Regions from separate parts of the Homo sapiens genome. Here regions 2 and 3 are each linked to region 1. The links come from fine-mapping of genetic effects on gene expression. A gene starts in region 1. Each other region holds a variant in brackets. All regions are shown on one strand. Distances are between the middles of the regions.

The links. PIP is the estimated chance that this variant, and not a neighbour inherited with it, causes the effect.
Region 2: its variant is fine-mapped to the expression of ZFP92 in tibial artery (GTEx, PIP above 0.99).
Region 3: its variant is fine-mapped to the expression of ZFP92 in cerebellum (GTEx, PIP above 0.99).

Annotation. Positions count from the first base shown.
Region 1 is chrX:153,407,854-153,416,129 of GRCh38, reverse strand. ZFP92 (ZFP92 zinc finger protein) reads right to left here and starts at 4,658. Exons shown (of 6, transcript NM_001136273.2): 1 at 4,427-4,658; 2 at 4,117-4,165. It also overlaps a transcript of PNMA6E not described here. RefSeq lists silencers at 4,140-4,350, 4,413-4,552, 4,613-4,862.
Region 2 is chrX:153,430,060-153,438,335 of GRCh38, reverse strand. No RefSeq gene overlaps it. Among named protein-coding and RNA genes, the nearest start is that of TREX2, 12 kb to the left of the region's middle. The variant A/G (reference allele first, on the strand shown) is at 3,586.
Region 3 is chrX:154,299,337-154,307,612 of GRCh38, reverse strand. TKTL1 (transketolase like 1) reads right to left here. Exons shown (of 13, transcript NM_012253.4): 2 at 2,192-2,309. Among named protein-coding and RNA genes, the nearest start is that of TKTL1, 7.7 kb to the right of the region's middle. The variant C/T (reference allele first, on the strand shown) is at 4,050.

The DNA of each region.
Region 1 (8,276 bases):
CAACCTGCCTGACCCAGAAAGGGGCTGTTCCATAGAGCAACGGGTCCCGTATCCTCTGCAAATCAGTGTCATGGGGGGAGAAAGGAGACTGGGGAGAGAGGCTGTTCTAGATGAAAAGAGATTTACGGGGTCCAACACCCAACTGCAAGAGGGGTCGTCAATGAGATGCTGGCGTAAATGAGAGAGTCGTCAAAGGGATTAGGGATCATTGGGAGAGGGTGATTATGGGGTGGCCCTCGGAAGGAAGTAGGGGATCATAACTGCTCATGTGTTGGATGGATAGTGGCACTGGGTCATGGAAGAAAATGTCCCTTTTAAAGAAATGCATATTGAAGCATTTGGGGGAGGGAATGGCATGCAACTTACTTTAAAACCTTTCACAAAGAGAAAGAGAGAAAAGCTGACACAAAAAAGGCAAGATGGTGATTAAAAAGAAAAAAAAACTATGGAAAACAGACTGGTGGCTTGTCAATGAGTTAGACATAGTTATCATATGACCCGGCAATTCCACTTCTGGGTATATACCCCCAAAGAATTGAAAACAGGTGGTTCACACAAACCCTTGCGCACCTGTGTTCACAGCAGCATTAATCACTAGAGCCGAAAGGTGGAAGAAGCCCAAATGTCCATCGATGGATGGATGGACCAACACCATGAGCCTATATATACAATGGAAAAGTATTTGGCCATAGAAAGAAAGGAAATTCTGACACATGCTACCATGTGGATGAACCCTGAGGACACTGCTCAGTGAAAGAAGCCAGATGCAGACTTGAAAGGTCACATATTGTATGATTCCATTTTGTGATGTAACATCACATTTCCCAAGAGCCGTCTTGACCTAGTTTTGAAATAGTGGCTAAAACCTCTCATCTCTATGCCCTTCGAGGGCAGTTTGCTAAGTCCCCACTCCCACCACTTTTCTTACAATTTCCCTCTCTCTGGGGCCACCAAACACACACTCCAACGGCCCCTGCCTCATTGGGCCCCCACACTCTGGGGCCAGGCACCAGACAAGTAGGGACAGCCCCTATGTCCTGGAGCCTGAAAACTTATGCAACTCAATCAATCCAAAGGAAGCTGGAGAAACCTAGCCACCCGCCTCTGCTGGCCCCTTCCGGCCCCAGCTGCTGTTTCCCGGTCCCCGGGTCTAACCTCTGTGTGGCCCTGCCTGGCAGCCTTCTCTCGTTCAGAGCTATACAGAACAAAAAGCTGTGCCTTTCATCTATCCCAGGGTCCTGTCATCCAAAGAACCTTTAACTCTCATAAAACATGTCTGTCCAGAACAGGTAAATCCATCATGTCAGAAGGCAGATTGGTGGGTGCCCGGGGGTGGGGGGATGGGGAGTGAGTGCTAATGGGTCTAGAGGTTTCCTTATGGGGCGATGAGAATGTTCTGGAGCCAGGTAGAGGTGGTGACTGCACAACATGGTGAATGTACTAAATGGCCTCTGAATTGTTCTCTTTAAAATGGTTAATTTGGCCGGGCGTGGTGGCTCACACCTATAATCCCAGCACTTTGGGAGGCCGAGGTGGGTGGATCACTTGAGCTCAGGAGTTGGAGACCAGCCTGGCCAACATAGTGAGATCCCATCTCTACAAAAAATACATAAAATTAGCTGGGTGTGGTGGCGCGTGTCTGTAGTCCCAGATACTTGGGAGGCTGAGGTGGGGTGATGGCTTGAACTGGGAAGGTTGAGGTTGCAGCGAGCCGTGATTGCACCACTGCACTCCAGCCTGGGCGACAAAGCTAGACTCTGTCTCAAAAAATTAATTTTTATGTTGTGTGAATCTCACCTCAATCAAAAAGGAGGGAAAAGAAATGTTCCTGTAGGTAAAATCATTCTAATGTCCGCAGGCCACACCTCATTTCATTATAACACACTGTCAGTCACTGGGACCCCTGCAAAACTAAAGGTGCGTGGGGAGGTATTACTGATAATTTGCCAGTGCTTTCAGACTAGTATAAAATTATTGTTTTGAAAAGCAGCATAAGCTCATTTTTTTCCTTACCATAACAGTACTGAAAGTTCACTACCCATTTTGGACAAGTTGAAAGGGGGAGGAGTTATCTCTAGTCCCTCCACCCCAAGATTACTGAGGCAGGTCTGAGCCCCAAGGGAGCAGAGCACTGTTGAGTGGTGACCCCCTGAGTGAACACCCCATCGGCGGGAGGCCGCCCAGAGACGGAGACCCGCACTCAAGTGCAGCATCGGAAGACCCAGCGGAGGTGCTGGCCACACCAAGCCGTCACCCAGAGCAGTGCCTGTCCTTGAGAGCTAGTTCCCGAAAATCATCTACAATTTCAACTCCTGGAAAGAAAGACACGACAAACCCTGTGCCCATAGAACTCAAATAACACCCAGGTGGGCACTACTCCGTGCATCTGAGGACAGAAGCACCTGGAAGGCACCTGGCGGAACTAGAGAGCAGCTTCTTCCAGCTGGACCAGCAAGACCCTGTGACCTTTGGGGACCAGCAGAGCAGAGGCCAAGCAGAAGGATAATCCTGGGCTCTGAAGCCAGGCTTCCCCGAGGCACAGCATCGGGCACACAGGTGAGAATCCACCAGACCTTGGCGCCTCAGGTGAGGAGCCAGAAAGGCCCATCAACCTGGGTGACCGGTGCCACTGCCGGCCCCTCCAGGGCTGCTCCACCTCTGTGAGGGGCCTCGGACCCGGGACCCCTGCTTGCGGACCTTAGCCTATGGGTGGAACTGAGTATGCAGGGTGCTCCACGCGGGGAGGGCTGGGAAGGGGATGAGAGCAGGGCCACTGCCAGCAAGGAAGCCTGGCCAACCAAGGGGAGAGCTGGCTCTAGCAGGATGCCTTAAGACGACCACTAGATGGGGAGATATTCCCAGAAAAAGAAAAAAGAACCCACACAAACAAACAACAATCAGAAAAGCATCCAGCAGTCCCACTCGGTGGGAGCAGGAATTTGGGCTTTTTCATCCACAGCAAGGGACAGGCATCACCACTTTGGTTGGGTTTCTTCCGTCCTGGGGGATCTTGCTTCTCTCAGCCCCATCAGCTTTCCTTGGCCCGAGGCCCTAGTCACCTGCTGCCCACCTGGCAGAACGGCTGGAGAAGGAAACTGGAGAAACCCAGAGCCAAGGCCCGGCCTGGGTGCTGCATGGGTCGACCGGGGCCCTCCATGCAGCCTAGCCTGAAAAAGTCCTCTGAGGAGCTTCCTTGCAGCTGGGCAGGCCTTGCCCTCTGGGGGCAGAGGGTAACCTAGCCAAAAGGGGGCCACCCAGGCTGCTCGCTGAGGGATCCTTCTAACAGGCGGGTCGGGTCCTGTCCTTCTCTGCTCACAGTTATCCCTGGGATGCCCGTGTCACTCAGAGTAAACTCACACAACCCTTCCTGACCTTGCCCAACCCTCCTCCCACCTCTGCACCTCCCTCTGCTCCTGCCACACTCTTGCTCCCTTGAGCCAGGCCACCCCTGCCTCAGGGCCTTTGTACAGGGGATTCCTTGTGCCTAGAATGCTCTTCCAAAACCATAACCACATGCCTCGCTCTTTTACCACCTTCAAGTTTTGGTAGAAATGAGACTTATTCTAGAATAAGTTATTCTAACCACCTAAACTGGCAACCAGACCTCCCTTCCCCGGCTCTTACTGCCTTTTAACAGACTCTGTAATTACTAATGGAAAACATTTTCTGCTTATTGTCTGCGCTCAGCCACTAGAACGAGAACAACAGGGCAGGGCTTACTACCGCCGTGTCCCTGGCAGATCTCAAATGCTTGCTCAGGAGGTATCTGTGGGAGTGAATCAGTCACAACTAGCCCTGTAGGGAAGCGCTGGGTGCCGCTTTCTGCCCAGCTCAGCTGGCTCCTTCTCTCACCCTTGCCCACCACTTCCATCGGCCCTTCGCTTCCTCCTTGGCTTGGCTAAGCTGATGCTTTTCCGTGGCATGCCAGTCACCTGGTCAACATCCCGCACCACCGCGAGGCACCAGCCCCCACCTGATACCCTCTGGAGCACAATTTTGGGCATCCTGCCCCGATCTGGAGACCCTCAGGGCCGGTGCCTGGGCAGCGGTGCCACAACCTCACAATGCCAGTCTGCCCAGCACTCTCACACCCAGAGGTGCAAAATCCAAACTCACCAGGCAGATCAGCGACAGGATGCTCTTTAGCCAGCCTCGGGACCGGTGGCTGGAAACCAATCAGGAGAGAAATTGACAGACACGGGCCGCAGCTCCCAGCGCCCAGCCCTGGATGGCTCTTCCCCTGGCGCCCCTGGTACGGGGCGGCCCCGAGGGCTGGTCCGGCCACTCAGTGCTAGCCCGCCTCCCAGGGAGTCCCTGCTTGTCGCCGCCGCCGCAGCTCCCTCGTCCCCCTCGACACCTGCACCCTGCCGAGACGGGCCCCTTACCCGCTTACCCGCACCCCTGCGGCCCAGCTCGGCCCTCTTACCTGGGCTCGGCGGGCAGCCGAGGGAGTCGGCCTCCCTTCCTGCTCCCGGCAGGCCCGAGGCCAAGGCCGCCGCCTCCTCCTAGAAGCCCTCCGAGGCCGCGTCCCCAGGAAACGCGGGCGGGGGGTGGGGGCTCCTGGGCTTGTCTCGACTTCGCCTCTGGGTACCGCTCGCGAAGAGCGTCCTGAAGGGGAGTCTCAGTCTGGTGCGCCGACGAGCGGGCCGGGAGCGGGCGGGGCCGGGGCGGCGGCAGCGTGGGAACGGGGCGCGTTGTGGGGGGGGCATGGAGCATGCGCGGCGCAGAGGGATGGCGGCCCGCCCCGCGCCCGCCCCACAGGGGCGTCTGGCCTGGCTCCCCACGCGCCCCGAGGCACTTCCGCTTTCTGTCTGGGCTGCTCTGAAGGCTGGGGTCGAAGTGGTCAGCGCACCGCGGCTCCTGAAGGGGACGGGAGGGACCCGCGTTGGCAGAACACCTCCCATGGGCTAGACCCCTGGGCGTTATTACGTCCATTCATTCAGTTATTCATCTCGCTGGGGTCCCCGGGACCTCTGCAGGGCAGCTAGCACCAAGTACCCCGGCCATGGTCACTCAGTAAAGGAGTGACCCAGGATGGCAAGGATCAGAGAGCGGGGAAGAGGTGAAAGGTGACTCAGGGAGCATGGTGTGGAGACACGAGGAGGGGAAAAAGGAGGTCAGGGAAGTGCAAGAAGCCAAGACCCTCTGGGTGCATCTGGCTTTCCCTCAGGTTACCGGAGGGGATCGCACCTGGAGTTTGTCATTTTCCAAAGGGTCATGCTCCACGTGGTAGAGCAGGGAGTGAAATCCAAGGTTGGTTGGGATATTGCTCTGATGACAATTGTGAGACCTTTGACAAATAGTGAAGCGTATGAAAAAGACCGTAAAAGAAAAGCAACAGGGAAAAATCAGCCACATCACATATCCCAGCCCCGGCCACTGGGAACTGAGCACGAGGCGGGAGCCTCCTTGGCCTTTGAACCAGAGTTCAGGGGTTTCTTTTCTTCAGAGACCCTGGGCCCTGGCCAGGAGCACTTAGCCCGCAGCAAGGAGCCCTCGGCAAGCCTGCGCTCCCAGAACAAAAGCCGTCCATCTGGGGCATAGGGGAAGGGCGAGGACGCTGCTCAGGGAACCTCCGGTTGCAGGGAGCAGGGCCCCCAGGGGGCCCAGTGCAGGGAGAGCTTCGGAGCCCCTTTCCCGGCGCAGAGGCAGGGAGTCTCCCGGTGGCCCTCAGCTGTGTGTCCTGGTGCCCAAGCTTGTCCCTTCACCGGGGCTCTGGCTGGGCAGGCTGGGATCTGGGCTGTTGAGATGTTGTGGGGTGACTGGTTGGTGCCCCTTGAAAGATACATCCATATCTTAACACCCAGGCACTGTGATCAGGGCCTTATATGCAAATAAAGGGTGTCTGCAGATGTCATTAAATTGAGGATGTGGAGATGAGAGCAACCCAGATGATCCAGGGGGCCCCAAATCCAAGGACAGTTTCCTTAGAAGAGACAGGAGAGAGAGACACAGAGAAGGCCATGTGGAGGCGAAGGTGGGGAGTGCCCAGGGCCCCCAGAAGCTGGAAGAGGTGGGTGGATCCACCCCCAGAGCCACCGGAGGAAGCGCCCGATTCTGGACTCCGGCCTCCAGAACTGGGAGAGTCAATTCCTGTTGGCTGAAGCCAAGCGGTTTGTGGTCATTTGCTGCGGCAGCCCAGGCCACTCCGACACGAGGGAATAGGCTGAGCCCAGAGTCCTCCTGGGCCATGGAGGCAGGGGGCGGGGGGACCTTTGCACCCGCATCATCCAGTAACCTGGTGGGGACTGGGGCGACCTTGGGAAGGCAGCTCCTGTTGTCCTTGGCTCATTTCCAGAGAGTGTGAGCGGCCAACCTGCATGGAGGCTGGGGAGTGTGTGCCTCGGGCAGGGGAAGGGGGCCCCTGGGAGTGCACCCCACTTCCACTGCAAGAGAAAGGGCCATGTGCACTGGGCTGCGGGTCCCACACAAGCTTAGAAATGGGGGAGCAGGGGTCACCGTGTGCACCATTGTTGGCACCGCGTGTGTGGACACATTGGTGGTGGAGGCGGCAGCGCGGTCAGCTGAAGAGCGCGACGCCTAGAGCAAGTGAAGACGACCTTGACAAGCCCACGATCCTGTCGGGAGATCAATCTCCCTTCCAGCATGTTTTCAGTTTTTTACTGTAAAGAACTGCAAACCCATGCCCAACCTAGAGAGGATGACAGGGCACACGGGCCCTCCCGGCGGTCCTCACACGGCCCTCTCTCCTCCTCTCCACTCCCCTTATTGTGGCCCTGAGGCCTGGGGCCTCCTGAGAGAGGTATCTCCATCTCTGCTTTAGGCAGGGGCAGGGCCTCCCGGGCAGCAAACCCGGATTCAGAACCTGGGGAGGAAGAGTTGGGGTCTGGAAGTGGGGAGGTCCCCTTTCCTCCCTGGGTTCCCACCACACCTAGCCCTCTCACAGTCCGGCTGGCCTGGCTGCTCCCCAGCTCTGGTCTCCCGTTCTCCCCTTGCCCTAGGCTGGCCCAGGACGGGCAGGTGAGGTAGCCGGGGGGCAGGGGAGTGGGCGCTTTCCCACAGCTGTGGTGCTGCCCACTGTGCCGTGGGCACCCGCCAGGTCACAGGCAGCCCCCTCCTGGGGGCAGGTTGGCAGCCGGTCTCCCAAGCCACAGCAGGTGCCCAGGGGCCCAGCAGGGAGGTCCAGGGTGACGTCAAGCTGTCTGTGGGAAGTGAGTGAGCAAGTTGGGGAAGGCCAGGCCAAAGGGGGCTGTAAGCCACCTTCACAGCAGGGCAGGGGTCAGGGCGGCACCTCTCCCAGGGGTCAGCTGGGCTGTGGCTGACTGCTCTGCTGGAGTGCCCTTGGAGGGAGGTGGTCTTGGGCTGCATGCAGAGCCTTGGGAATATGCTGCCAGCCTCAGATATCCACTGAGGGTGATGGCGACTGTGAGCTCCTGTGGGGACAGGATGTGTGTCTGGACTGGATGAGCTGTTTTTGCAACTCCTGCCTCCGCCCCCCTGCCAGAAAAGTGCTGTAGATGGGGTGCAGCCAGTGAGTGGGGGAGGGGATGTCCAGGCTGCAGTCCCAGGAGACAGTGGCTCTGGGGAAAGCAGGGGATGGAATGCACGCGGCAATGCCTCAGGTCACGCAGGTTGCTCCTTGACCCTGCAGAAGGGTCGGAGTACTGCGTGGCTCATGGCATGGAGAATGCCTTGTGTCATGTGGGCCAGTTTGTCCAACCCTGCGACCCCTGAGGATTGATGGGACCCTCAGGATGAGGCCGGTAGGGGCAATAGTGTCAGGCCTGGGTGCCAGGAGGGAGCAATGCCCAGGCCTCAGGGCAGGCTGTCTTGGCCTTCAGAAGCCTGAGGCCCTGAAGCTCAGCTGGGCACCTGCCCCAGGAGGTGGCCGTCCACTGCCTGAGTGGCAGCTTCTCTCATGGCTGCAGCTGTGGCTCCGGTTCCTGAATGTCCCAGAGGGGAGCCACCACTGGCCCTCTGCTGATCCTCTTCAGTGTGGCCACTGCCGTTCTCACTGTCCCTCCCAGGACGGCCTCCCTCTCCCTTCACTGACTCTCCCAGTCTGATCACAACTGTTTCTCAACTATCCCTCCCAGTGTGGCCACAGCTATCCTTATGGTGCCCCCTCCAGTGGCTTCACTGTCCTGAGCTGTCACCCAGGCCCCAGCCTCTTTCCAACCTCAAGTCTTGGCTCTGGCTTCAGGCTGCTGCCTGTGTGCTAGAGAATGTCTGTCAGTGTCCGCTGGGATCACGTGCTTCCTTGTTCCTGCTCAAGGAAAGAGAGGCCCCTCCTCTGTGGATAAAATCTGAAAACT
Region 2 (8,276 bases), 22 kb before region 1:
TAATTATATGTTTAAAGGGAAGTGTCCAATCTTTTTTTTTTTTTTTTTGAGATGAAGTTTCGCTCTGGTCACCCAGGCTGGAATGCAATGGCACGATCTTGGCTCACCACAACCTCCGCCTCCTGGGTTCAAGCGATTCTCTTGCCTCAGCCTCCCGAGTAACTGGGATTACAGGCGCATGCCACCATGCCCAGCTAATTTTTGTATATTTAGTAGAGACAGGGTTTTGCCATGTTAGCCAGGCCGGTCTCGAACTCCTGACCTCAGGTGATCTGCCCGCTTTGGCCTCCCAAAATGCTGGGATTACAGGTGTGAGCCACCATGCCCAGCTGAATCTTTTAAAACTTTGATTTATTAGTATCTTTTGAGTGATTCGGGTATTTTAAATTAAAGTGTGTATTCAATCTGTACCCTAAACATTATGGCCAGTGATGCGTTTGGTGTTGAAATTGTATCTATCAATAAGCTTGACACTTTATTATCGCTAAATGCAGATTTTACTGTGTCCTATAGGTTTGCTATTAAACATTCTTCTTTGCTTTGCTTTAGGAATAGCTTGTAATTTTGCTTTCCATTCCCTTCTTGATCTCATGCTTATATACTGCAGTTTATCTTAATTTCTGAGTAATTATGATTTCATGATCTTTTTTTTTTTTTTTTTTTTTTGAGACAGGGTCTCATTGTCACCCAGGTTGGAATGCACTGTCGCAATCTTGGCTCACTGCAACTTCCGCCTCCCGGGCTCAAACTATCTTTCCACCTCATTCTCCCAAATAGCTGGGACTACAGGCATGCGCCACCACAGCCTGCCAATTTTTGTATTTATTGTATAGATGGGGTTTTGCCATGTTTCCCTCTGGTCTCGAACTCCTGAGCTCAAGTGATCAACCCTCCTCGGCCTCCCAAAGGGCTGGGATTACAGGCATGAGCTACCACACCCAGCCAGTCATGTTTTGTTGTGTATTTTAGTTGTATTGGATAATAATCTGAGGATGTGTTGCTTAAAATATCACCTTTTCGAATTAAGGTAGTTTGGGGGCTGCTTGAGTTCTCTAGGGATGCCATAGCAAAGTTCCATAAACTAGGGGGCTTCGACAGCAGAAATGGACTGTTTCTCGGATCTGGAGGCCAGAAGTCAGAGATCGAGGTGTTGGCAGGGCAAGGTTCCCCCTGGGGGCCGTGAGGGAGAATCTATTCCAGGCTCTCCCCCAGCTTCCGGGACTTTGCTGGCCATCTTTGGTGTTCCTTGATTTGTGGCAGCCTCTCCCCAATCTCTGCCTTCATCTTCACACAGCCCTCTTTCTCCCTGCATACAAGGCGCTGTGTCCACATTTCTTCTTTTTATAATGACACAGTCATATTGGATTACAGCCCACCCTAATGACCTCATTTTAACTTGATTACCTCTGTGAAGATCCCCAAATAAGGCTCCATTCTGAGGTACTGGGGGTTTGGGCTGTAATATATCTTTTTTTAGGGGGAGGAGGGAGGCAGACACAATTCAATGGATAACAGAGGCCGAATACATAAATAACTGTAAAATATGTTATAGACTCTGAAAAATGCACCTGCTTCAGAGATGCAGGCTTTTCTATATATCTCTAAAATCTAGTTGACAATTGTACTATTCAATTTCCTTTACATTTTTACTTGTTTTTTTTTTTGTTGACTATATCTGTCTGATTTAATGACAATATATTAGAACATTCCATTGTAATTGCATTTTCTTGAAGTCTTCCTTCATGTCTAGTCATTTTTCTTTATGCATTTAGTTGCTGTGTGTTTGTGCTTACTGCATTACAACTGTATTAATACACACACATATATATATACACACGCTCTAACACACATATACTCATGACACATATATACTGACAAATACTTGATACATATTATAGCCAGGCACTGTGGTTCATGCCTGTAATCCCAGCACTTTGGGAGGCTGAGGCAGGCAGAACATTTGAGGCTAGGAGTTCGAGACCAGCCTGGTCAACATGGTGAAACCCTGTCTCTACTAAATGCAACAAAAATTAGCCGGGTGTGGTGGTGAGCCTGGCCAACAGAGCAAGGCTCGGTCTCAAAAAAGAAAAAAAAAATCCCAAAAAACCACACCAAAAATACACATTATATCCACACCATGTATATGATATATATCATATCGTGTGTGTGTGTTTGTGTGTGTGTAGAGAGAGAGAGATTTTAAGGAATCAGCTCACGTGACATGGAGGTTGGCAAGTCACTGGACACTCAGGGAAGAGTTGTTTGAGTCCAAAGGCTCGAGTTGGAGGCAGAATTCCTTCCTCTTTGGGTGACCTCAGTCATTTTCTCTTAATCCCTTCAACTGATTGGATGAGGCCCACCCACAGCATGGAGAACAATCTGCTGTACTTAGTCTTCTCATTTAAATACTAATTTTATTTAAAAACACCCTCACAGCCACATCTAGACTGGTGTTTGACCAAAACTGGGTACTGTAGACTGGCCAGGTTGATGCATAAACTTTACCTTCCCAGTCACTATAGCACGGTCTGGTCTTTGTTCTCTGGAATTTTCTTCGTGCGTAACACCCACGAATCTGTACTTGATCCTTACAGCCAGCCCAGCCAGCCCCTCTGTCATCACTTATTTCAATTGAGCGCATACTTTGTGAGGTGGCTGCCCACCGCCCCTTCCTCTCTGAGGCCTCTGTTCTGTTGCAGGGGTTGTTTGGTCTTGCAGCTTTGCAGTGAGCAGATGTTTGCAGAATGTAACCGACTCAAGTCTGGCTGCTTGCTGTTTGGAGGCCAGAATACAAGAAGCGAGGTGTGGTGAAAGGAAAGCCGTTTTTGTTTTTTGTTTTTTTTTGGCAGAATCTTGTTCTGTCACTCAGGCTGGAGTGCAGTAGCACAATCTCGGCTCACTGCAACCTCCGCCTCCTGGGTTCAGGTGATTCTCCTTCCTCAGCCTCCTGAGTAGCTGGGATCATAGGCTCGCACTACCATGCCTGGCTAATTTTTGTATTTTTTGTAGAGACAGGGTTTCGCCATGTTGGATAGGCTGGCCTCAAACTCCTGACCTCAAATGATCCACCCAACTTGGCCTCCCAAAGTGCTGTGATTACAGGCGTGAGCCACCACTCCTGGCCGAAAGCAGCTTTTACTCGAGTGCTAGCAGGTGGGAGAATGGCCGGGCTGGCCAGGCTCAAGCCTCAGAGGAACCATCTCAAGCTTTATGTGGGCGAGAGGAGTAAAAGGGAGCTTGGAATGGGAGACATGCAGGCGGGGCACTGGGCACAAGGTCTGTGTGCCTTGTTCCCTTGGCTATCTTGAGTCATGGTCCACTGGGAGCACGGGCTGGCATCATCTCTACGATGGCTGGGTTGTAGACTGACCGCCTGGAATTTCACAGCTAGATTTCCATGCTTGGTTTGTCTCAAGATTAGCGCCCTGGAACTACTAAGTAAGCACAAAATTAGGTGAGTGAGCAGTGCAAGGGAGTGTCTGGTGGGAAGGGAGGGAAACAAGGAGTTTCAAAGTACATTAAGGCTGAAAGCAAGAAAGGAAAGACGAAGTTTCAAAATGCATTTGTTTTTTGTTTTTTTGAGAC[A/G]GAGTCTCGCTCAGTCGCCCAGGCTGGAGTGCAGTGGTGCGATTTCTGCTCACTGCAAGCTCCGCCTCCCGGGTTCACGCCATTCTCCTGCCTCAGCCTCCCGAGTATCAAAATGCATTTTGAAGCTAACCTGCTTGGTCACAAGGATTCTTGCTTTCCTTCCCTGCTGGGTGAGGATGAGGATCCACAGGCTGCCAGAGTCGCACAGGGAAGCTGGCCCACTCTGATCCATTTCTGCTATTGCTGGTTCTTTCTGTTTGGAAGCTTCTGAGATGCTCCTGCTGTCTTGGGAGCTTGGGAATGTTTGTCAGGCAAAGCCCAGGTCCATGACAATCCGGTTTGGAGTGGAGCTCAGCTAGCCCTCCTGAGGTGGAGACGGGCCTTTGCCTCCTCTGGGAGGCCTTCTTCAGTCAAGGGCTGACCCGTCTGTCCTCTGCCCCTGCTCCTCACTTCTTGTCTTCTGGCCAGCATCCTCCCAATTTCCATCTTCTTGTTTCTAGCTGGATTTGTAGAAGCAGCGACAACCCCTTAAGTGGCGTGAGGTGTGATAGTCGCCACAGTCCCAGCGGAAGCCCCAGGCTCCTGGGTTGTCAGTCACCCAGGTACCTCCAGGGGCCCAGCGCATTCCGGGTAGCTGGAGGCTGATCCTCGCCCCGGGCCCCGGATCCATGGCCTCCGCTCAGCCCCTCCCACCTCTGGACCCTGCTCCCCACCCTGGGCGCTCCACCCCTGCATGTACTGGGAAGACTGGAGGTCCTGCCAGCCCGGGGAGCCCTCTCCACAATGCGGGAAAGAAGACAAAGGTGAGCTCAGCTGCAATGGGCATCACAGGCCGAGAAGGAAACCTCATCCTTTGCGCAGTGCATGTCAGCTACCCTTTGATCTAGTCAGGCAGATGCCATCTCAAGATGCCCTGCTGCATGTCCTCATCCATCGTGAGTGCACCTGGTCAGCAGCTGGCCATTCTGCGCTAGTGAGTTGCCTGTATCCAAAGGAAAATGAAAGCTTTCTCTTGGTGGTCTCAGGAAGGCAGGGAGCTAGGGGCGCTAGCTTTATGTTTGCATTTCAAAGAGATGTGTCCGGGTCCTGCAGACACACCTCCCTGGGCCGTAAGCCTGGCGGGGCTGTATTGAAAAGGTTTACAAAGTCTCCTTCCAACCTGGAAATCCAGCACGTACAGCATTCCCCCTCCTGCCAGGGAACCCGGAAGCCCGGCAAAAGAACCCTTGGCATTTCCCAGGTCCCCTGGGGCGGAGAGGAGGACTTGGCGTTTGTGGTTCCCTCCCTCGAGGTCCAGGGCTGAAAGGCACCCAAGCCGTTGGGAGGGGGCCTCAGCTAGTGGTGACAGCCTGGGTGCCAGGCCTCACCCCCCAGCTGCCCAACCCTGTGGCTGGCAGAAATGACCTCACAGCCTGGCCTCAGTTTCCTCATCTGTAAAATGGAAACAATACAATGATCCTGGGAGGGTGGGTCATGCCTGGGGCCTGGCACATAGCACATGTGCAGTGCATGTCAGCTACGGTGACAGCTCCTGTTATGTCTGAGCCCTTGCACTTCTTGTCATGCCCTCCGAGCCCTATATGGCTGTCCCTGGCCCTGCCACCCTCATCCCTCCCCACTGCCCCTGGGAGGCCCACTGGCCTCCAGCCACACAGGCCTCAAACACACCAAGCCTGTTCCTGCCTGTGCTGGGTTGAAGGCAGCCCCCAAAAGATGTGTTCATGTCCTAATCTCTGCCCCCTTTTAGTGTGACCTTATTTGGAGAAAGGGTCTTTGCAGATGTAATTACATTAAAGATCTTGAGACAGGGTCATCCTGGATTACTGGAGTGTGCCCTAAATCCATTGACAAGTGTCCTTAGGAGAGACGCAGAGTGGAGGCACACAGTGGGAGGACGAGGCCACTTGAAGACTGAGGCCGGGATTGCAGCGATGCAGCCACAACCCAGGGAAGTCCGGGGCCACCAGCGGCTGGAAAAGGCAAGGGAGGGGTCTTCTGGCTCTTCAACAATAAGAGAGTAAATTTCTGGTGTTTTAAGCCACCTGGTTTGTGGTGCTTTTTCCTTCCTTCCTTCCTTCCTTCCTTCCTTCCTTCCTTCCTTCCTTCCTTCCTTCCTTCCTTCCCTCCCTCCCTCCCTCCCTCCCTCTCTCCCTCCCTCTCTCCCTTCCTTCCTCTCTTTTTCTCTCCCTCTCTCCTTTTTTTCTTTTTTTTGATGGAGTCTTGCTGTGTCGCCCAGGCTGGAGTGCAGTGGCGTGATCTTGGCTCACTGAAACCTCCGTCTCCTGGGTTCAAGCGATTCTCCTGCCTCAGCTTCCCAAGTAGCTGGGACTACAGGCATGCGCCACCACACCTGGCTAATTTTTGCATTTTTAGTAGAGATGGGGTTTCACCATGTTGGCCAGGCTGGTCTCGAACTCCTGACCTCAGGCAATTCACCCGCCTCAGCCTCCCAAAGTGCTGGGATTACAGATGTGAGCCACCACACCTGGCCCCCTCAGTCTTACAGAAAGGAAACGAAGGTGCATGGCATCCGGAGTGAGCAATTGTGGGTAAGGGATGGAAGAAAGTGCAGGTGGCAGGGCTCCAGGGCCCACAGCCCCAGCGCTCCTGAGGGTCTCACCAGCTGAGAACCTATATGGTGCAAGGGCGGGGAGGGGGATGACCAAACGCTTTCCCAATTCCAAGGCAGGATTTAACCTTTGGCTTCTTTCCTTTTGTACAATCTTTTCCAGAAAATCAAATGATTTTTATGTTTGGTTATGGCCAACTTATGGAATCATCCCCCCAAATGGGCGAAGTTAGGAAAATGGTAAAGGCGACTGGATTCCCTTTAGTTTGGGGGCAGAGTTCACACAGCTGCTCTCCCTGATTGGCTGGAGTGAGCAGCAATGCTGGAGTCCTGGAACTTGGGCATGAATCTGTCGCCGCTTCCTAGTGTTGAGTCTCCAGACAATTCCTTCCCATCTCTAAGCCTCAGTTTTCACATCTGTAAATGGTAGTCAGGATGCCGGCCAGTGGGAGGGGCTTGAGCAAGGCTGGCCTTCTCTCCCTCACCCCCAGCCTCCCAGAGTTCAGGCATAAAGAGCTGAGGGCCCTCGGGTTGATATCTAGGTGTGGGCAGGGCTGCGCTCCCTCCAGAGGCTCTAGGGGAGGGTCCTTCTGCCTCTTCCAGCTTCTGGTGGCCCCGGGTGTTCCTTGGCTTGTGGCCTCATCACTTCTATCCCTGTCTCTGTCTTCACATGGCCTTCTCCCTGTGTGTCTGTTCCTTTGCATGGCATTCTCCTCTCTTTGTAAGGACAGCAGCCATATTGGATTAAGGGTGCGCCCTACTCCGGTATGACCTTATTTTAAATATTTACATCGGCAACGACCCTACTTCCAAACATGATCACATTCTGAGGTACTGGGGGTTAGGACTTCAACCTACCTTTTTGGGGGATACAATTTGACTCATAACACCACCCAATCTGCATCCTAACCTTTTTCTCTGGGGATAAGACCCCAACTTTGTTCAAGGCATCAGTGGGCTCAGCCCCAGGTGATAGGTCATGAAAATCCATCCCATTCCCAACGTTCTCAGCCTCTCTTGAGGTTAGGGGTGGCCGCATGATCCAGTTCTGGCTCCTGAGATCTAAGTGGAAGTCTGCCAGGCAAGTTTCTGGGAAAACTGTTGCTTCCTTGATAAAAGAGGACAGAGTGTCTGTCTCTGCCCCTTCCTCCTTCTGTCTAATGCATATGTGATGGCTGGAGCTTCAGCAGCCATTTTGTGATCACGCAGCAAAGCGAAGCAAATCAGAAAGATGCTGCGTACTGCCAAAAGCTCTGCTGCTGAACCGATGCCAGAAAGCTACCCCAGAGTCCTTAGGTGAGAAAACAAAGCATCTAATTCTTTAATCCACCATAGTTAGGTTTTCTACTACTTTTGTGGCCACTTTCCTAACTGATATACTGTGTTTGTTTCTTCCTGCATCCCATTCCCATAACCAGAGGAGACCCTGTGATCTGAGTGTTCAGTCACTGCAGTCAAGCTGCTCTCCTTCTCACCTGTGCTTTCCTCTTTCCTCCTTTGTCCTTCTCTACCTCCTCTCACCTTGTTCTCATGTAACCAGCTAGAATACATTATATAGTAGGCGAGGAATATTTTCATTGAAAAAAATGAAAAAAATTTAATTCTTACTTTCTTATTTTGATTTGATTTGATTTGAGCTCTCACAGTTCTGGAGGCTAAAAGTCTAACGTCAGGGTGCCAGCAGATCTGGTTCTTGGTGAGGTTCTGTCAGAAGCCCTTTTCAGAAAATGGTACTTAAAAAATCTTGGAGCCTGGGCAACATAATGAGACCTCATCTCTATAAAAAAAAAATTAAAAAATCAGCCAGGTGGCTGGACGAGGTGGCTCACGCCTGTAATCCCAGAACTTTGGGAGGCTGAGGCAGGTGGATCACATCAGGTTGGGAGTTTGAGACCAGCCTGATCAATATGGTGAAATCCCGTCTCTACTAAAAATACAAAATTAGCCGGGTGTGGTGGCAGGCACCTGTAGTCCCAGCTACACGGGAGGCTGAGGCAGGAGAATTGCTTGAACCCAAGAGGTGGAGGTTGCAATGAGCCAAGATCACGCCACTGCACTCCAGCCTGGGTGACAGAGCGAGACTCATCTAAAAAAAAAAAATTAGCCAGATGTGGTGGCACAT
Region 3 (8,276 bases), 890 kb before region 1:
AGGTCAAGGATAAAGTGAGGATAGATTGAGAAAATGGTGAGGCATCAGTATGATGCCCGTTATGGCAGAAGTGCTCCCACATGGGTGCTGTCTTTCTCAAGAACCCTTATGCTGCGGGGCAGACGATTCAGGGAGGTGAAAGGCTAGAATAAAGATCTGCTCTGCCTGGAGTATAGCTGTTTACCCCGTTCCCAGGCAAACCACAATGGACTATGCTTCATGTGTTTTCTCTTTTGTTCCAATTTCATCAGCCAGCTAAATCTGATGAACACACAAATTCTGGCAGCCGAACAGGGCCTGGTGTGCTGCTGCCCGATAGAAAGCCTCTTCATCCCCTAAGGCCAATGGCTCTGATAGCAGCTGTTATATGACAGTCTAGATTTTTCTTTTTTTTTGAGACAGGGTCTTGCTCTATCTCCCAAGGCTCAAGTGATCCTCCCACCTTAGCCTCCTGAGTAGCTGCAGGCACGCACCACCACGCCCAGCTAATTTTCGTATTTTTTGTAGACACTGGGGTCTTGCTATGTTGCCCAGGCTGGTCTCAAGAGATCCTCCTGCTGGAGCCCCCAAAGCACTGGTGTGAGCCACTGTACCCAGCCTTTCCTTATTTTAAACCAGAAATCTAAACACCCATATTGCGTTTATATATCTATTTTTTTTTCAATTTTCATTGTAAAGAGGGCTGGAAGCGGTGGCTTGTTGCCTGTAATCCCAGCACTTTGGGAGGCAGAGGTGGGCGCTTGGGCCCAGGAGTTTGAGGCCAGCCTGGGCAACATAGTGAGACCATGTCTCTACAAAAAATACAAAAATTAGCCGGTCGTAGTGGCACATGCCTGTAATGCCATCTACTCAAGAGGCTGAAATGGGAAGATCGCTTGAGGCCAGGAGGTCAGGGGTGCATTGAGCTGAGACCGAGCCACTGCACTCAAGCCTGGGCAAGAGCGAGACTCTACCTCCCCAAAAAAAGAACAAAAAAAGATGTAAAAAAAGTTCAAGTTTATAGACATGTTTAAAGCCTAGCACAATGATTTCCTTCCTGTATACTGCTTACCTCCAATAACCAACTGAAAGCAATGGAAGGCATTTACTTCATCCCTCTCTCCACACATGCGCGTACACATGTAAATTCTATTTATTTTTTGCCAAACCATTTGATGTTATGGTTCAGACACCAAGACAAGGGTCACAATTATGACCTTTAGGCACTTACTTCAGCTATGCCCAGTTTTTGTCTTCACTTCCCACTGTGCTAATCTGGCATTTCTATTTGGACACAGTACTCTACCCAGCCAGATTTTTCTTTTGAGATGGAGTCTTGCTCTATCGCCCAGGCTGGAGTGCAGTGGCACGATCTCGGCTCACTGTAACCTCTGCCTCCCAGCTTCAAACAATTCTTGTGCCTCAGCCTCCCGAAAAGCTGGGATTAGAGGCATGTGCTACCATGCCTAGCTAATTTTTTTTTTTTTTAAGTGGAGACGGAGTTTTGCTATGTTGACCAGGCTGGTCTCGGACTCCTGGCCTCCAGTGATCCACCCACCTCAGTCTCCCAAAGTGCTGGGAGTACAGGCGTGAGCCACTGCACCCGGCCCCTAGCCAGGTTTTAATTTGCTTCGGGACACAGTGTACTTTGAGATGGCATCAAACCAGCCACACATTCTCAAACTGACCTTGTTTTTAAGGTTCTTTTTCTTTCCTATCACCCATGATACTTCATGAAGTGGCTGGTATTTTGCCCAATCTCATGAGAAGTGCCCATCAGTTTCAGGTCAGATGTGCAGAAACATAGAAGAGGAAGCTAACTGACAGGGGTGGGATGTCCCTCCCGGTTACACTCAAGTTCCCCCAGGCTCAGTGAGTGGGATTCACTGAGGCTGCCTGCCTCTCCTCAGGCAGCACAGAGGGTGGGAGCAGCATAACCCTGCCATGGGGGAAGCGTTCGTGCTAAGTGGGGCGAGGCAGGGTGTGACCAAAGGAAAGGAAGGACAGTCAGCTCTCCCAAGCCACCCTTCCTACCATGCCATCACAGGGCTCCAAGTGGCCCTCACTAGAACACTCGAGCTTTAAGATGCAAAGAAAGAAGAACCAAAATAATAAACGAGGCCCATTTCAGGCCTTGTTCCCACACGGTGGCTGTTCAAACTGGGCTTAACCAGCAGGCGCCACAGCAGCCCTGGGCTCCCCACCGGCATACCTTTGCGAGGACAAATCGGTCGTTGTCCGGATTCTCTGGATCTGACTGCTTGTACCTCATGATGTAGAAGAACAGCACAGACATGATCTCAGAAGAACTGCTACATGATGTAGGGTGGCTGAAAGACAGACATGACACTGGTCATTTCTCACAGCAACTGGCTTCCTAGCACACGACCTCGGCACATGGTCTCCTCATAGAAGCGGTCATTTCTCCCAGCCCGGGAAGAATCCAACCAAGGGTAAGGAATGCAGGGCTCACAGGTTGGAAGGGCGCTTTAAAGCCCGGTAAGCTCACCACCCCTCCCCCTGTGCACAGTGAGGCCAGCTCCTAACCGCAGAGCACCGTGGACTCGGGGCAAGTTTCCTTTGTGCCTCTGACATGAGTATTCTTTCACATGCTTAAATTCATCTGTGGCCTTTCCACATGCCGAGGAACTTTCAGGAGCATTGTGAATCAGAAATGCCATGAAGATCCCATTCTACCTTCTACAATGAATTTCTTTTAGGAAGTGAACGGTGACAGACTGAGAAATTTGTCATGGTAGAGTAACTGAGGCCCTTTCTGAATGCTGCCAAAGTAACTGCTGCTCTTAGAAAGCGGCCTGCATGTGAGTCCAGCCAGGCCCTAATTAATTAAAAAGGGGGAGGGGACAAGACAGCAGGGGACAAAACCAACTCCCTGGAGCTCTGCCCCAACTGCAAGTAAAAAAAGATGTTAGGCCCAGCTCATATTAATAATCTCTCATTTCAAATTTCACTAAGAAAGTCCCCATTAAGAAAATGGGGACTGTCCCTCCCCCATTTTCTTAATGGGGACCCGCGAAGGGATGGGCCCTCACTCTGTCACCCAGGCTGGAGTGCAGTGGCATGATCATAGCTCATTGCAGCCTCGACCTCCTGGGCTCAAGTGATTCTCCCGCCTCGGCCTCCCAAGGTGCTGGGATTACAGGCATGAGCCACGCACCCAGCCTGATAAAAAAAAAGCTTCAAAGGACACAAAAAGAGGGCTTTTGCACGTGCAATTGTCGAAGGTGACTGATGAATGGTTTTGGGGTGCTGATGGCAGAGCCCACCAGGCTGCAGGGCTGGCGTGGACATTCTCCTGCAGGGCTGGCGTGCACATTCTCCAGGACCCCTCGTTCACACTCACTGTCCTGGACATCTTCCCTGCATTGCTGGGATACCTTGTTCTTTATTCACTAAGCTCTTTCCTGGCTCAGTGAGAGAAAACTCAAGAGGCCCCGGCAGCAGAGGAGTAACAGGCTTCAGTGGAGAAGGGACCGAGAAGGAAGTAATTGGAAATCTCTTCTTCCTCTCAGGTTCCATCTCCTCTGCTCTCTCCCCACTGCTGAGGGTCGGTAGAAAGGGGGGTGACACACTCCCACCCCATCCTTGTCACACTGTGATCTCCCCCAACGCATCAGTGTCTGCACCTTTGAGGCTCCAAAAAGACGATGTGCCCTTTCTACTTTGGAAAATCACAATTCTCAGAAGACCAACAGAAATGCATGTAGAAAATGATGGAAGTTACTGGGTATCAGAGAACACGATGACCTGAATGAGCAAGAAGATGGTGGGGGGCGGGGGGTAGGGTGGAAGCCAGCTAGGACTCGGTAGTGACAAATGCATAACTATTTGCTTATTTTCAGTGCCTTTTGCTTCAAGTGAGAGGTTTCTGCTCTCCCATGGTGAAGTGTGAGGCATAAATCCTGCTTCATTATGGGGGACTTCCAGGGGGGTGGCACGCAGCCCAGGAGTCCCCCTGGCATGATGAGGGGGAAGTTGGGAAAGAGAAGCAGAAAAGAAAATGGAAGGGGGCCAAACGCAGGAGGTGTGAGGAGGAAAGCCAAGGAAGA[C/T]GAGGGAAGAGGGAATGATAAAAAGGAGGGAGAGGCCAGGCGTGGGGGCTCACACCTGTAATCCCGGCTCTTCTGGAGGATGATGCAGGAGGATTGCTTGAGCCCAGGAGTTTGAGACCAGCATGGGCAACATGGTGAAACCTCGTCTTTCCAAAAAAAAAAAAAAAAAAAAAAAAAAAAAAAATTAGCTGGGCAGGGTGGCATGCACCTGCAGTTCAAGCTACTTGGGAGGCTGAGGTGGGAGGGTTGCTTAAGCCCAGGAGGTCAAGGCTGTAGTGAGCCATGATCACGCCACTGCACCTCTAGGCTGAGCAACAGAGTGAAACCCTGCCTCAAAATAAATAAATAAATAAATAAATAAATAAATAAATAAATAAATAAATAAAAATTTTAAAAAATGGGGAATGAGAGGTAGGGTCTAATAAGTAGAAGGCAAGGTAGGAGGCTGGCGCAGGAAACGAGTCAGGGTGTTATTTTGTGCGCTAATGCAATGGGTTAACGCATTCGTTTCCTAAGCCTGCCAGGGTGAGTTGCCACAAACGTGATGGCTCAAAACAGAAATCCAGAATCCAGGTGGCAGCAGGGCCACGCTCTCTCCCTAGGTCCTAGGGGAGGATCGCCCTCGCCCCTGCCTCTCCAGCTACTGCTGGCCCTAGGTGTTCTTCGTCTTGCAGCTGGGTCACTCCCGTCCCTGCCTCTCTGCCTTCACAGGACCTTTTCTCCTGCGTTTCTCCACGGTGTCTGTGTGTCTCCAATCTCTCTTTTCTTTCTCTTATAAGGACACTAGTCACTGGATTTAGGGTCCACCCTAAGTCCAGGATGATCTTATCTCAAGATCCTTAACTTAATTTCACCTACAAAACCCTATTTCCAAATAAGATCACATTCACAGGTACGGGAGGCCATGGACTGAATGTGTCCCCCCAGAATTCCTATGCTGAAATCCTAATGCCAGTGTGACAGTATTTGGAGGCAGGGCCTTTGGGAGGTGATTACGCTGTGAGAGTGGAGCCCTCATGAATGGGATCAGCGCCTTTATGAGAAGAGGCTGGAGACCGACCATGTGAGGATACGGGGGGGAAGGTAGTGCTCTTGAGCCCAGTAGCAGGTCCTCGCCAGAACTGACCATGCTAGCACCTTGATCTTGGATTTGTAGCCTCCAGACAGTGAGAGACGAATATCTGCTGTTTAAGCCACCCAGTCTTGGCATTTCTTATAACAGCCCTAAGTGATAACTGATTTGGGTGCCCCTATTCAACCCTTGTTTTGACTTAGATGACATTCTCTACAGGGAAAATTTCTTAGGACTATTGGACAAAATGTAAAGTTCTCTTCTTGCTTTTTGCTTTGTTTTGCAAAAAAAAAAGAAAGAGGAATGGGTCAACCAGAACATCTGGAAAGTCTGGAGTATCACTGAGGAAACACAGGGCGATTGAGAACCCGAAAGTGAATGGAAACCTACGATAGAAGTGAGATATGCTTTTCTGTTGTCACCTCATCGGACTGTGTGTGATGACACAAATGCCAATAGCCGGCAAACAGCGAGGAAACCAACATGATCCTGACAGTTTCAGGAGTGCCCACGCTGAATGATTTTTAAGTTGACTATCTGCCTAAAATAAATAATTGTCTCATTTAAAAAAAAAAAAGAAAAAAGAAAATGGGGACTTAGGCCGGGCACAGTGGCTCATGCCTGTAATCCCAGCATCTTGGGAGGCCGAGGTGGGCGGATCACCTGAGGTCGGGAGTTCGAAACCAGCCTGACCAACATGGAGAAACCCCGTCTCTACTAAAAAAAAAAAAAAAAAGAAAGAAAATGGGGACTAAAACCTCTTGCTTTGCAAATGTCCTGTAAGTGGATGATTTAGATTTAAAAGCCACACAGATCCCTTGAGAAAATGCAGCCATCTGTTACTAATTTTGAAGGTGAAGGGAACAAAATGAACATGTACAAAAAATTCAGACATATATGGTTCTTAACTGCATCCACACTGTCCTCTTACTATCTAGCCCAGGCTCTGGAGCAAGATTTATTTATTTATTTTTTGAGACACAGTCTCACTCTGTTGCCCAGGCTGGAGTACAGTGGCACTCTCTCGGCTCACTGCAACCTCCACCTTCCGGGTTCAAGTGATTTTCCTGCCTCGGCCTCCCAAGTATCTGGGATTACAGAGGTGCACCACCACGCCCGGCTAATTTTTGCATTTTTAGTAGAGACAGGGTTTCACCATGTTGGCCAAGCTGGTCTCAAACTCCTGACCTCAGGTGATCCACCCCACCTCAGCCTCCCAAAGTGCTGGGATTACAGGCATGAGCCACCGCGCCTGGCCAACAAGATTTAAAAAAACATATTGCACTAAGTATTTTCTCTAACCACAATGGGATGAGGTTAGAAATCAATAATAGATGGAAAACTGGAAAATTCACAAATTTGTGAAAATTAAGCAACACACTCTTACACAACCAAAAGCCAATGGCGAAATAAATAAAGGGCATCCAAATTGGAGAAGAGGAAGTCAAACTAGTGCTGTAACACTGATGATACGATCATACAGCTAGAAAACCCTAGGCCAGGCGCGGTTGGCTCACATCTGTAATTCCAGCACTTTGGGAGGCCGAGATGGGCAGATCACCTGAGGTTAGGAGTTCAAGACCAGCCTGGCCATGGTCTGGTGAAACTTTGTCTCTACCAAAAATACAAAAATTTGCCGGGTGCGGTGGCACACACCTGTAGTCCCAGCTACTCGGGTAAGGCAGGAGAATCGCTTGAACCCGGGAGGTGGAGGTTGCAGCGAGCCGAGATCATGCCACTGCACTCCAGCCTGGGTGACAGAAACTCCATCAAAAACAAGCAAACAAACAAACACAAACAAACAAAATCCTAAAGACTCATCCAAAAGACTCTTAGATCTGATGAACAAATTCAGTAGTCTCAGGTTACAAAATAAATGCACACAAATCAGTAGCACTACACCAACAACGACCAAGCTTGAGAATCAAGAACTCAATCCCTTTTACAACAGCTGTAAACAGCAAAAACAACAAATAAAACCCACCCTAGGAATATACTTAACCAAGGAGGTGAAAGACAGCTACAAGAAAAACTACAAAACACTACTGAAAGACATCACAGATGACACAAACAAAGATATCTCATGCTCATGGATAGGAAGAATCAATATTGTGAAAATGGCCATACTGCCCAAAGCAATCTACAGATTCAATGCAATTCCCATCAAAATACACCATCGGGCTGGGCACGGTGGCTCACGCCTGTAATCCCAGCACTTTGGGAGGCCAAGGCAGGCGATCACCAGGTCAAGAGACCGAGATCAGCCTGGCCAACATGGTGAAACCCCGTCTCTACTAAAAATACAAAAATTAGCTGGCAGTGGTGGCGTGTGCCTGTAGTCCCAGCTACTCGGGAGGCTAAGGCACGAGAATCGCTTGAACCCGGACAGCAGAGGTTGCAGTGAGCCAACATTGCGCCACTGCCCTCCAGCCTGGGCGACAGAGCAAGACTCCGTCTCAAGACAAAAAAAAAAAAAAAAAATACTAAAAGTAGTAGATTACCATCTATCTACCATTCAATCCAGAAATTCCACTACTGGCTATCTACCCAAAGGAAAAAAAGTCATTATATGAAAAAGGTACATGCACACACATGTTTATAGGCAGCACAATTCACAATTGCAAAGATAAGGAACCAACCTAAGTGTCCATCAACCAATGAGTGGATAAAGAAGGTGGTGTATATACAACATGGAATACTGCTCAGCCATAAAAAACAATGTATTTTGCAGCAACTTGGGTGGAGCTGGAGGTCATTATTTTAAGCGAAGTAACTCAGGAATAGAAAACCAAATACTGTATGTTTTCACTTGTAAGTGGAGCTAAGTTTTGGAGTGATATAACGGACTTTGGGGAGGAGAATGAAGGGGGAAGGTAGGAAGGAGGTGAGGGATAAAAGACTACATATTGGGGACAATGTACACTGCTTGGGTGATGGGTACACTAAAATCTCAGAATTCACCAATATAGAATTTATTCACATAAGCAAAAACAACTTATACCCCTAACACTATTAAAATTAAAAAAAGAAAATGAGAGGCTGGGTGCGGTGGCTCATGCCTGTAATCCCAGCACTTTGGGAAGCCGAGGTGGGCGGATCACCTGAGGTCGGGAGTTTGAGACCAGCCTGACCAACATGGAGAAACACCGTCTCTA